Homo sapiens: one gene and its partners. The protein of the gene in region 1 purifies or fractionates together with the protein of each later gene. This does not show direct contact. Each region holds a gene or a part of one and is shown in the gene's direction. Other genes may lie near its edges.

Evidence for each region. The genes of interacting proteins can lie anywhere in the genome.
Region 2: the proteins of FAM163B (region 1) and QNG1 purify together in Homo sapiens (affinity purification with mass spectrometry; one large-scale study listed by BioGRID and IntAct). This does not show direct contact.
Region 3: the proteins of FAM163B (region 1) and PLXNC1 purify together in Homo sapiens (affinity purification with mass spectrometry; one large-scale study listed by BioGRID and IntAct). This does not show direct contact.
Region 4: the proteins of FAM163B (region 1) and CCNB2 purify together in Homo sapiens (affinity purification with mass spectrometry; one large-scale study listed by BioGRID and IntAct). This does not show direct contact.

The regions. Positions count from the first base shown.
Region 1 is NC_000009.12:133,581,890-133,585,389, reverse strand, and holds part of FAM163B (protein FAM163B), read left to right. Parts: intron 1-514; exon of another isoform or gene 515-1,151; intron 1,152-3,050; exon of another isoform or gene 3,051-3,500.
Region 2 is NC_000009.12:83,953,943-83,958,066, reverse strand, and holds the start of QNG1 (queuosine 5'-phosphate N-glycosylase/hydrolase), read left to right. Parts: upstream 1-1,324; 5' UTR 1,325-1,566; coding exon 1,567-1,903; intron 1,904-2,426; coding exon 2,427-2,686; intron 2,687-4,124.
Region 3 is NC_000012.12:94,305,577-94,308,175, forward strand, and holds the end of PLXNC1 (plexin-C1 precursor), read left to right. Parts: 3' UTR 1-2,099; downstream 2,100-2,599.
Region 4 is NC_000015.10:59,108,146-59,111,645, forward strand, and holds part of CCNB2 (G2/mitotic-specific cyclin-B2), read left to right. Parts: intron 1-3,500. UniProt on the Homo sapiens protein: Essential for the control of the cell cycle at the G2/M (mitosis) transition.

The DNA.
Region 1 (3,500 bases):
ACAGAAAACTAGCAGAGTCTGAAATTCAGCACGGGACGTGTGGCCCAGATGGTGGTTAGCAGGGGGTCTCCTGCCAGGGAAAGGTGGGTGTGGGGAGGGGGCTCCCGGGGGAGGCAGGTGGAGGCCCGTGTCTGGCTCTGCTGCCAGGTGTTTCCTGCCCCACCCCCAGCTCCACGCCATTCATTCCTCGGTGCCGGTGCCGCAGGAGACAACTGAAGCTTGTAAACGCAGCTGGCTCTCCCTGCCGGCTACAGAGACGAGATGGGGCCCTCAGAAGGGGACTGTTGCCCGCCCAGGCCCCCTTGCCACAGACTCTGTGGACTGGGGTGGGGGACGCACAGGGGAGCCCCATCTCACAACCTGTCCCTGTAAAAACCCGGGGTGGGAACAGGGAAGCAAAGCCATTTATAAAGCTTTAAAACCATTTATGGTCCCAGGGGGCAGATAAACAATTCAGCGCTATTCTCGCCAAATTGCCTTGGCTGGCAGTGCGGAGGCTTCAGGGAGCTGGAAGAGGGGTGGGGCTCGAGTCACAAGCAGGCGGCAGAGTAGCCTCTGCCAGGCTGTTGCTGGGCCTGACCCGCATGGCTCTGCCTCCGAGGCTTGGCCTGTGCTGTTCCCAGCACCAACAGGCCCTCTCCTTCTTCTCCCAGCCCATCCTTCACAGCCCGGCTCAGAAGCTTCCTCCTCCAGGAAGTTTCCCTCGGTTCCTCCCCCATCCGTTACCACCCTGAGCAGCCAAGTCCTCCCCTGTTCTCTCAGGCACTCAGCTTTCTCAGAGCACAAGTATCCTTGGGAGCCAAAGTGTCTGTAGCCCTTCCCGTTCTCTGCCTACCCTTGGAGGGTGTCATCTGGCTTTTTCGCCTTATCACTTGATGTTTGTTTACATTTTCATAATCCTGACTTTGTTGGGTGTCTAAATCATCTGGATTCCTGGCAGGACCAATTAAAAATCCAAGTCCCCCAGAGTTGGGAGGAATCAGCGTCTAAACCCTGCCACACCCATTGTACAGATAAGAAAACTGAACCCAGGGAGAGGCCTCTGACCCAAGGTCACCCGCAAGAGTAGAGCAGGACAGAGGCCCCGCAGACTCGTATCACCTGGGCCACAGCTGAGTAGAGTCCTGGGGTCCCCAGGGAGGAGGCTGAAGGTAAGCACTCAGGGAGGGCAGCAGGTGGTCCATATTCTTCCCCCATTAAATGAAGGGGTGGGACCTGGTCCCTCTCAGCTCTGGCGTTTGAAGTTTTGAAGTTCTGTGGTGTGTATTAAAGTTCAGGAAGGCTTCCTGGGAGAGGAGGGCACGTGCTGGGCTTTGATGGCGTGGTAGGTCCGGGGGGGGGATGGGCATCCCAGAGGGTGGGGCACAGCTAGAGCAGAGGGGAGGCAGGAGGGTGGAGGCCCAGGGAGGCCGTGTTTTTGGGAGCTGCTCGGAGTGAACTGTGGTCTGATGTCAGGCTGGGCGCTGGTGGAGCTGCCAGCGGAGTGTGTGTCTGTCGGCCATGCCTGGCCCTGGGACCTGGCGCCGTCTCGGGCGTTGCTGCTCCTCGGCAGGCGTGTATCTGCAGAGCGAGGCTGAGAGGCTCCAGCTGGACCAGCCTGGGTGTTGGAGGGTGGCTGCTGACAGCCCTGGGCACCTGGCCTGAGCCGGCACCCTTCCCGTCACGCCGCCAGGCTGCTCTCCGCTGGAGGAGACCTGGGCCCAGAGGAGCTGCAGCCAGGCGGAGCCAGGGACCGGCTGCATCTCAGACCTGAGAGAGAGCTTTGCGGCGAGCGGGGCCAGCTCCCTCAGGGACCCGATGAAGGACTCAGACCCAGGGAGGGACACGGTCCTAACATCAGCACAGCACTGAGCATGGTGCAGCTGCTGTCCCACAGAACCCCTGGGGTTCTCCCATTTTATAGAGGAGGGAACTGAGGCAGAGGAATGGAGGCACTGAAGGCCCATTCTTGCAGCTAACCAGAGGCAAAGCCAGGCTGGCACTTGGGGGTTTAGCCTGGGTGTCCTGTATGGCTCCCCAGTACCTGTCCCTGAGGGAGCACCTCAGCCCAGCCATGGCCACCTACAGTCTCCATCCTCCCTGCAGTCTCAGCCTGACAGCAGTGGGAGCCCCTCCACCCAGGCCCATGCTTCCCTATGGGAAAGCAGTGGCCCCCATTGCTATCAGTAAGCCCTAGCAGTGGGCCCTCAGCCATGGCCCGTAGTGGAGGGTGGTGCTGAATTTTAATCCCTGCATGACCACAGACAACACTCGGGCACGAGCCTCCACCTCCCTCAACCCCTCCCAAGCTGTGTGAGTGCCCTCATTGATGAAGTGGGGCCATAATTACCTGGGTGCAAATAGCAAAAATGCCCTCCAGGTGACATACACACAGTAGGTGACATACACACAGCAGGAGTCACTCTGCAGGTGTCGGGGAGGGATCGGCACCTGAGTCAGGACCACAACAGCAATCTCTCCGGCAGCTGTGGCCTTCCTCGCTCCCTCCGGGGACCAGCGCCTTCTGACTCTCCAACATGTGGCTGAAAACCCCACCCGTGGCTACAGCCTGGCCACAGCCTGAGCACTCATGTCTCTACCCAAGGTCAAGCGACCAGCAGGGACCGGCCAGTGTCTCAGGCCTTAATTCCATTTCCCAGGAGAGAGGCCGGCTGGCCCAGCCTGGGGTGCACGTCCATCCCAAACCCAATAAACTGTGGCCGAAAGGACAGCAGCAGAGGGCTCAGAAGTGGCCACCAGCCTCTTGGCTCAGGGCACAAAGAAGAGGGCCATGGCTGGGCCAGCACCCCCAAACCTGCTATCAGCACAGTGTGTGCTTCCCCAAAGGAGCTGTGGCATTCAAGGCATTCACGTGGAGGAGACATGGGGTTCAGCAGTCGGGGTAGGGTGGCAGGGGCCCCAAGGTGGATGGTAGCAGCGGATCCAGCCCTGACCTGACCCAGATCCCTCATCTTACTGGTGCTGGGGCCTGGGCGGGTCATTTCTCTCCAGGCCTCGGTTTGCTCCCTAGTGGGATCATTTGAACATCAAAAAGAATCATGACTGCAGTGGACTGAAACGCATCAAATATATTTTCAAAAATCAGTGAGATTGCACTGGGCAAGTTTCCACGTAGAAAGGCAAGCTGGGGCAGACAACAGGCTGGGACCAGTAGGCACGCGGGGCCTGCAAAGGGGGCAGGGTCACTTTTGGTTCACTGAGAGGTGTGGATCTGGGCTGGCCTGTTCTCCGTCCTCTCGGCACACACACAGCCACAAACCTCAGGGCACCAGCTCATTCTGATCCCTGATAAAGGGAGGAATGGAACCTCTGAGCCTTCCCTCTGCAGGCCGCATGCTAGGGTAACCACACAGATGATAAAGGCATGTGCTTTAGAGCTTTTTCAAGAAGAACTGGAGCTCATAAACGTGGAAAGAAGGATAACATTTGGAAAGTCACTACTTTGTAACTCCTAGTGAAGTAACAGATCCAGGTCACGCACAGGATGCTGCAGCAATGGG
Region 2 (4,124 bases), about 50 Mb from region 1:
TTTGGGAGGCCGAGGAGGGTGGATTACCTGAGGTCAGGAGTTTGAGACCAGCCTGGCCCACATAGGGAAACCCCATCTCTACTAAAAATACAAAAATTAGTCAGGTGTGGTGGCTGACACCTATAATCCCAGCTACTTGGGAAGCTGAGGCAGGGAGAATCACTTGAACCGGGGAGGTGGAGGTTGCAGTGAGCTGAGATCATGCCACTGCACTCCAGCCTGGGCGACAGGGTGAGATTCTGTCTCAAACAAACAAATTTAAAAGCTCCGAATCCTCCAAAAATACCAAGATTTTCCTGTCGGTAACTAGAGATGGGTACTGATGATTATTTTTAATAGGTGATTTTCAAAGATGTGAACGTTATCCATGGAGATTTAAGTCTCCAAAAGGAAAAAAAATGCATACCTTTATACTAAAACTTCATCACCAGTCAAATTTGGATCATCACTAAATTGGCTTCTACACCTCTCTCCTAATATAAGGTACTTGTGTAAGTTTGCAGTTGTGAGACACTTATTTCCTCATTTTTAATGTCTTCTCAGTAGGGCCACTGATATAGTCACTATTTGACTGACCAGAATGGTTGGCACTGGTGATTGGCTCATAAAGTGCCCTCGATTTAGGGGGCTCAATTATCAAAGGTTTAAATCCTAGCCCAAACCATTGCTGTGATGGGGGTTAATCAATGAACCACTCAGCTTCACTTGCAAAAGCGGGATCACAATAGCCGCTTTCGTCATGACCCAGCCTAGGTGAGATTTAGTACTTAAGTACACTGCCAGGCACACAAGGTTAATTTAACAATTTAACACATTTGTTTCCTCATCCATTTCTCCAAACCTTCCAACTAATCCTAACGTTCGTTCGGCCAAATGGGCCAGGAATTCACTTAAACAAAAACAAAAAACAAAACAAACAAAAAAACACTCCCTGGGGCTTGGGGAAGGAGGCACCGCCGCCCATGTCGCAGTCTGGGGGTGGCTCAGTCCTCAGCACCCAGATCTACGGCCATAATGCTCTTCGAGGCCAAGGAGCCCGGATGCGGGGCGTTGCCGAAGGCGTCTTGCTCAGGCTGCGGGAAAGGAGAGGGGTGGGAGCGGGGTGGGGGCATCGCGACCCAGGGCAAGGCGGCGAGTCGCCGTCTTCGAGTCCCACCTGTCCGAAGCGGGGTGAGAAAAGGCAAAACATGGCAAAGCCATGCACCTCCCAGGGTGGGCAACTCACGGCCGGTGAACGCCGGACCCTTAGCAGTTTCCAGACCTTTGGAACCGGAAGCGGAGCCTGAGAGCGCGCCCGAGAGGGCGTGAACGGGACCGCTTTCCCGGAAGTGCTTGCGGCCTCTGCCCAGCGAGCTGCCCCGGGGTCTCTCTGGTTTCCTAATCAGGGCAACGCCGCGGGAGAGAACCTTTACCTTGGCTGCACTAAGTTCTCGGTGCCACTCCCTGGCAGGGCGGGACCTTGTTTAGGCCCTGTGATCGCGCGGTTCGTAGTAGCGCAAGGCGCAGAGTGGACCTTGACCCGCCTAGGGCGGGAAGAGTTTGGCCCGCCGGGTCCCAAAGGGCAGAATGGACGGGCTCCTAAATCCCAGGGAATCCTCTAAATTCATTGCAGAAAACAGTCGGGATGTGTTTATTGACAGCGGAGGCGTACGGAGGGTGGCAGAGCTGCTGCTGGCCAAGGCGGCGGGGCCAGAGCTGCGCGTGGAGGGGTGGAAAGCCCTTCATGAGCTGAACCCCAGGGCGGCCGACGAGGCCGCGGTCAACTGGGTGTTCGTGACAGACACGCTCAACTTCTCCTTTTGGTCGGAGCAGGACGAGCACAAGTGTGTGGTGAGGTACAGAGGGAAAACATACAGTGGGTACTGGTCCCTGTGCGCCGCCGTCAACAGAGCCCTCGACGAAGGTTGGTGCCATACTTGCCATCGGACCTAACGGCCTTTGAGGTTTCCATTTACTTGGGGTGTGTGTAGGGGAGTTCCAAGGAGCGGGTTGGGAGATGGAATAATGGAAAGCGAACCTGAAGTTCGTTGCAAGTCCTTATGCTTAAAATAGAAGTATGAAAAGGGGCATATTTTAGTGGAAAATGATGTTAATATTTATCATTGCAGCATAAAAGTTACAGTAGCATAAAAGTCAGTTTTATAAAGAATGCCATTTGAATGACACCTGAAGAACAAAAGGACCGATGTTATAAAGCAATTTACTCAGAATACATCTGATGTAATATTGCAATAGTTAGAAATGGGTGAATAAGTACAGATGAACAAGTAGAAAATGAGTTTTGCTTTAGATTTTTTATTCTTCCACTTTTGGTGCATTCCTATACCACTCATTTGGTTTCATATTAATTCCATGTTGTAAAAGCAAGGGTTTAATGCATATGGAAGTATGACATTGGTCCTCTGAATTTTATTTTTTCACTAAAGGGATACCAATAACTAGTGCCTCGTACTACGCGACAGTGACCCTGGATCAGGTTCGGAATATACTTCGTTCTGACACAGACGTTTCCATGCCTTTAGTAGAAGAGAGGCATCGGATTCTCAATGAAACCGGGAAAATTCTGCTGGAGAAGTTTGGAGGCTCTTTTCTCAACTGCGTCCGAGAAAGTGAGAATAGTGCGCAGAAGTTAATGCACCTGGTGGTTGAAAGTTTTCCTTCTTACAGAGATGTGACTCTGTTTGAGGTGAGTTGCTTCTGTTGGGGATTTTAGAAGTCTTAATCATCTCAGAGTTAACTCTTTTACTTCCAGAACTCATTTTAAGAATAAAAACTTAAATTTTTAAATGTATTCCTTGTGGAAGAAACTAACAAAATCAAGTAGTGTTTCAAAGTCATTTCTTATGTTTTCTTTTGTTTGTTTGTTTGAGACAGAGTTTTGCTCTTGTTGCGCAGGCTGGAGTGCAGTGGCGTGATCTTGGCTCACCGCAACCTCTGCCTCCCGGGTTCAAGCGATTCTCCTGCCTCAGCCTCCCGAGTAGCTTGGATTACAGGGATGCGCCACCAAGCCCGGCTAATTTTATGTATTTTTAGTAGAGACGGGGTTTCACTATGTTGGCCAGGCTGGTCTCAAACTCCCGACCTCAGGTAATCTGGTCGCCTCAGCCTCCCAAAGTGTTGTGATTACAGGCGTGAACCACCACGCTGGCGTCATTTCTTTCCTTTTTTTTTTTTTTTTTTTTTTTTTGAGATGGACTCTTACTCTGTCACCCAGGCTAGAGTGCAGTGGCGCGATCTTGGCTCACTGCAAACTCCGCCTCCCGGGTTCAGGTGATTCACCTGCCTCAGTCTCCCGACTAGCTGGGATTACAGGTGCCCGCCACTGCGCTAGGCTAATTTTTGTATTTTTAGTAGAGACGGGGTTTCACCATGTTGGCCAGGCTGGTCTTGAATTCCTGACCTCGTGATCCACCCACCTCGGTCTCCCAAAGTGCTGGGATTACAGGCGTGAGCCACTGTGCCGGGCCTTTTTTTTTTCTTTCCCTGAGATGGAGTCTTGCTCTGACTCCCAGGCTGGAGTGCAGTGGCACTATCTCAGCTCACTGCAACCTCCGCCTCCCGGGTTCAAGCGATTCTCCTGCCTTTGCCTCCTGAGTAGCTGGGACTACAGGCGCATGCCACCACACCTGGCTAAGTTTTTTTGTATTTTTAGTAGAGATGGAGTTTCATCTCATTTCTTATGTTTTCTAATCAATATTTCATTCTTTACTTCCTTTTTTTTCCTTTTAAAATGTTTCAAACCTAAAAAACATGGAACCCTCCATGTAATGTTCTCCTTATGGAAAATTAAGTATTTTTAGTACTTCAAGAAGGTTACTTTATTGGTTGAAGATCAGAATGTATACTAACCTCTCCCTAATAAAAAGTATTTCTGGCCAGACTCGGTGGCTCACTCCTGTAATCCCAGCACTTTGGGAGGCCTAGGTAGGTGGATCAACTGAGGTCAGGAGCTCAAGACCAGCCTAGCAACATGGTGAAACCCCATCTCTACTAAAAATACAAAAATTAGCTGGGTATGGTTGCACGCACCTGTAGTCCCAGCTACTTAGGAGGCTGAGGCAGGAGAATCGCTTGAACCCGAGAGGTGGAGGCTGCAGTGAGCCGAGATTGCACCACTGCACTCC
Region 3 (2,599 bases), on another chromosome or scaffold:
TACAGTCTCCACTTAAGCACAATGATATAAGTGGTTTTGTTTGAAAACTACAGCTATGTAGCACTTGTGCTACACTGCACCTCTGCATTGTAAAGGGATACTGCCAGTGCTCAAAACAAAATGTGAAATGAGTCATTTGGAAACAAGGTGGGGGTGTTAGGGCAACCTCGAGGATTTGCAGCATTGAAACTTTCCCCAGTAGTTCTTGGAAAAGCTGACCGCAGAATTTGGTAGTGTACACTTAGCATTTGTGAGTGTGTGTGTGTGTTTAAACCAAAAACTAACAGTGTTGCAACATTGTTGAAAGGGCTCGTGTTTTTCAGTGGTCATCAACTGCACTCCATCAAACTCACCTCCATTTCACCAAGGAGCTCTAAAGTAAGGAGAGTGGGCTTTATTTAAATGAACAGCATTTTAACCAGATACTTTGTCCTAATGTATGTTCCTTTTCTTCATCTGTTTTTTCATACTAAATGTATTTGATAGTGGACATGTTGGATATTATACAAAAAAATCATTAATTCATTTCTGTTCCAAAACCTTTGATCAGAACGATCTGTGGAAGAGTAACTCCATTTCTATATGAGTGAGTGTCTCCTTGCTTTAGATTTCTGGTGAACCCTGTGGTTATGAATACTTGTGTGTGATTTAAAAAAAAAAAGATACATTTTACATTTTATCGAATTGCTGTTCACACTGGAGTATTATATATAAATATATATATTTGAGGCCCAAGGCCTGAAAAATATTAGTATACAACTTGGTATCTTAGTCTTACTATGTACTTTTTGAAAGTATTCCTCGCAGGAGAAAGAATTTAAAATACCCATTTTATTCATGCCTTTCTTTTTAAAGAATTCTCTATCCAGTTATACTGTAGTCTTTTTAGTGCTGATTTTTTAATTCCTGAATTTTTGCTGCTCATGACCAGTTTTAATACCACTGTGTTTTCCTTCTATTAAACCAGAAGAAGTAAACAGCATAATTGGCAACTCTTGAGCTTTTCTTGTGGCAGGCACCTTTTACCCTTGGTGCTCCAAATCCCCCATCTAGGAAAGAAAATTTTTTCAAGTCAAATAACATTGATCACATATTCCTTGAAATCATTTACCAACACTGTATGGAGCATTAGGATTTAAATATGAATTTGTCTTAAAGGCAATTCCTTTTTGCTTCTGTATTATCTGGAAAAGCATGAGAGAGGTGACACCTCAACAAACTGATCAGAGAAAATAAGCAGTTACTACCCTGATAGGCACCTTCCCAATCCTGTTGCTTTTGACCATTGTCTGTCCAACGGACACACCTCAAACAAACAAAACTACCAAATAGATGACAGATCAGAATAAAGGTGAGAGGTCTGGTCCCCATTGAAGGCTGCTACAGTCTTCAAAGAGGTGAAGGAGTTCATAAGAGAACAACAGTAGGAAAGTTGAGAGCCAAGGGTAGGAGAGTTGCCCAAAAGACTTCCCCTACTACTTTAGGGTACTGAAAACTCAAAGGATCAGCTACAGCTTTATCTAAGTATTTACTAAATGCTACATGAGGGTGTCCCTGTCCAGCTTTCTGGCACATGAGTCCTGTGTGGAGAGTTACCTCCTCTTCCAGGGACTGTGCTGTTGGGAACTTTGGGCAAGTCACTTACCTCTTTGTGCCTCAATTTCTGTATAATATTTCTAAGCTACCTCACTGAGGTGGTATGAAGATTCACTAATGTATGTAGCGTGTTTGTCAATCCTCCAGTGAAAAGCACTATCTAGATCACATTTTGGATCACATTAGCCAAATGCAGTAAATGGCCAAATTAGATGTGTGCTGAAGACAATCAGTCACTGGGTCTATATTAAACAGCAACCAGAGCAACAAATGGCAAACAATTTCTATTTTCAAGTTTCTTTGCATATTTTTTTGGTGCAAAACCATTTATAAACTTTTTTTTCTAACACTAGTGTCTACAGCAGCATTCAAAAAAATTCTGTTACCTTTTCTGTATTAGGATTTAAAGTCTATTTCTTATTGTATACCTGATTGAAGCTGTTCTTGGAGATGAATGTTTTAAATGTCTATATCCAAAAAATAAACATTTTGATGTAACTGTGGACTGTCTTTTTTTTTTTTCAATTTTCTAGTTATAATAGTTTTTTTATTCTAAGTGGCTCCGTGGAAATTATTTTTCAGAGATAAGGTGTCACTGTATATGCTGTGAATAAGCAGCTATATTATGTAGTAAGTAAACCTAGTTTGCTAAATGGTGCTAAGGACTGCTCAATTACAGTCCTGGCCTTCTTCACTATCAACTGGGACTTTTGACTATGAACACCTTGGGATAATGAACATTCCACTTAATTTGGGAGACTTGAGCTTTAGCCTCGTTAACATGAAATTATTCCAGCAGAATTCCTCTAAAAGATGTCACATTAAAAAGGCTTCCAATGGGTGTAGACCAAAAAAAATGAGAGCATACTTAGGGACACAAAACACATAATTATTTGGTTAGATCCACAGTAATGGGAAGTAAAGTTAAATACCAACAATGTTTATAAAAGGACCTGAGTTCAAGTTTTATAATCAATGGCCCCCTTGTTAATACAGCCATAGG
Region 4 (3,500 bases), on another chromosome or scaffold:
GTTTGTGGAGAACAAAGTAGCAACAAAGATCAAGGTACCAAAGCGGATATGGACCTATAATCATGTCCTTTCGTTAAGGAGTCTGAAAGACTTAACTGAGTCAGGCGGCTTGAGTGAGGAACCAGAAGATAAGGCTGGGAAGAAGGTTGCAGTTGGATTTGAAGGACTTGGAATTTGGATTTTTATCCCATTAGGCTTGAGGAAACAAAGTTTTGAGGAGTACCGAAATGATGAAAACAATGTAGGGAGGTAAGTTAGGAGGTATTGCACTTATCCAAGCAAGAGCTGATGAGGGTCTGGAGCTAGCCCAGATCTTCCCTAAGCGCCTACCCATACACCAGTATCAATAGTGGGTATGAAGAAACAACATCAAATGTGTTAGGATGTCTCAGAATGTCTTTCATCTTGTATTTAGGAAAGAATACTTTGGACACATGGCTTGCACTGCAGGAGTGGTATCCTTACCCACTTGGATATTAAATAAACCATTTATGCAATAAATGAACAAAAAGTAGGAAAGTCAGGAGAGGGCGGTAGCTTTGGTAAAGGTATCCTGTTTGGCTTCCGATTTGTTGAGGTAACCGAGGGACATCTGCCTGGAAATGCAGTTGGAAATGTGGCAGCAACATCTGAAGGCAAGGAACAGATTTGTCAGCTTTCTTCACAGAGATGATGGTTGAAAGCTCTTTGCTCTTTATGAGAACTAAAGCTTAGAAAAAGTAGTTGAGATGGGACTTCATTTAAAAAGCCTTCCCTAGAAGGTTTCTATAACAGTGACCTCCTGAAAGCCAAACCCAAAGGCTGGTTTTCAGACCTTGATCTCTTAGCAGTTGTGCAGTGTTTTACATGTGTAATGGTTTGAATGTGGTTCCTCCCACATCGCAGGAGGGCGATTTGGCAGTATATGTATATATTTTTGGGGGGGGACGGAGTCTTGCTCTGTCGCCCAGGCTGCAGTTCAGTGGCTCGATCTCTGCTAACTGCAACCTCCGCCTCCCGGGTTCAAGCGATTCTCCTGTCTCAGCCTCCCGAGTAGCTGGGATTACAGGTGCATGCTACCATGCCCAGCTGATTTTCACTATGTTGGCCTGGCTGGTCTCCAACTCTTGACCTCAGGTGATCCACCTGCCCCCGCCCCTCAAAGTGCTGGGATTACAGGTGTGAGCCACTGCGCCTGGCGGTAGTATATTTCAAATGGTTATTCTCCATACCCAGTAGCTTTGTTTTTTATCCAAAGAAAATGATCAGAGGGATAATCAAGTACTTTTAGATAGTGCTATGATGAGTGTCTCTTATAGAGTAGAGAAATACCCTAGTTAAATCCATTTAAGGAAATACTATGCAGCCATAAATATCATGTTTTAGTAGAATATTTAAAGGCATCAAAATGCTTGTAACATTAAGTGGAAAAATCAGATTATAACAATATATAAACAGTGCAACCCCAGATTTGCTTTTAAAATGTACATTTGTATGCAGAATATTGATGGTAGTTATTTTTGAATATTATGTTGGACTTAAGATTGACTTTCATTTTCTTCCTTAAAACGTCAAACTTTGGCCGGGTGCAGTGGCTCACGCCTGTAATCCCAGCACTTTGGGAGGCCGAGGCGGGCGGATCGCGAGGTCAGGAGATCGAGACCATCCTGGCTAACACAGTAAAACCCCGTCTCTACTAAAAATACAAAAAATTAGCCGGGCGAGGTGGTGGGCGCCTGTAGTCCCAGCTACTTGGGAGGCTGAGGCAGGAGAATGGCGTGAACCCTGGGGGCCGGAGCCTGCAGTGAGCCGAGATTGTGCCACTGCACTCCAGCCTGGGCGACAGCGAGACTCTGTCTCAAAAAACAACAACAACAAAACAAGAACAAAAACAAAAAACTTCAAACTTTTACCATGGGTACATATTACTGTTCAAGTTAGAGAAGAAGAAAAGAAGGCTTTTTTTTTTCTTTTTTTAAAAGCAAAGACCATAAATATGTTACTAAAGAAACAAAGGGAAAAATAGTTTCCTCCTGTGACCTCCATAACTTCATCCTTTTTGTGTTTCCTTTACTCCTTGGCTGACTCCTTTTTCTCTTGCTTCCTGGCAAAATTGAGGCCACTGTTTGAGATAAAGCATTATGGACCCGTAGCTCAGTTCATATAAAAATCAATTCCAGGGTTGAAACATATAGCTACATGTTCTAGATTTAGAAGTTATGAGGAATTAATGAACAGGAATTATTTCCAATTCAAATACATTTCCCTCTGAGAAAGTAGTGAAGGAATCTCTAAGTCCACGATTTAGGTAGAGTCCCACCTTCTAGCAGGTGAGTCTCTCTGCCTGCCTGTCTCTGGTCAGCCTTCTGGCTTTTACTTTGTCATCTGCTTTATCTGCAGGGTTATCACTGTTCTTTAGAGCCAATCCCTGGAGGTGTGGAAATGCCACTTGAGTGCACAGGTTTCTATCAATTTTCCTGGAAAGGTGATAACATAAGCCATGTGTCCATGATAGGAGATGTTCCCAGTCTTCTAACCAAATTTATACTATCCTTTTTGCAAAACTGGAGGGCAGGTTTCTTTCTCTGTAGCAGTTGACACAACTGAATCACAAAGTGCCCTGGCTGAGACCTCGGAAGAGTTCCAGCCCTTTACAGGTAGTCATAGAAGCTTATTATCCTGCAGGTTTTGGAGAAAATGGTGTTTTTTGCTGATTAATGAGGCTTTGGTAAACACAGTAGTTAGAAAGGACATGGAAGGCTTTCTACTAGTCCCATGTTTGCTGGACACTGGGGAAACAAGTTGAATAAACCATCGATTCTGTCTAGAGGAGCTCCCAGTCAAGTTGGAGGACATAGGAGTAGAAGTATGGCTTTATCTGTCACAAAGAGAGATGCATGCTTATGAGAGGTACTGAGGAGTCATAGCTAGAACAGATTACCTGACCAGATGAGTAGGATCTTAGAAAGGGTCTTACAATAATTAAATTATGTTGGAGTTCAAAATGAATGCTTTCAAGGAATTCTAAATTAAGGGCCAGGGCAAGAATCTTTGTCTTATCCTAGTGGCTTTTGTTGTTGACTGCTTGATTGATGGAGAAGATCTCACTATGTTGCCCAGGTTGGACTCAAACTCCTGGGCACAAGCAATCCTCCCACCTTGGGCTTCCAAAGTGCCCGGATCACAGATGTGAGCCACCACGCCAAGCCCTTGGTGGCTTTTGGATATGGCTAAACTCAGTTGCACTTCTGAATAGGAGCCAGAAAAATATTCTAAAGTGGTATGATAGCACATGATAACCTCTATCTCCTTAAACCAGACTTTTTGTTATTGACTGCCCTTCCAGGGGTGGGTGATAATGCTTATCCTTGAAAAAGTTAACCTTCAGCTGAAGCTGCATATGCTTATTACAATGCAAATCTGATTCTAGTCACTTGATAAACTCCTTCAGTTTTTCACCTTAACGTTTGGATAAAATCTAAGCTTCTAGAAGCTCGGCTGTTGTTCAGCTTTTCAGCTCA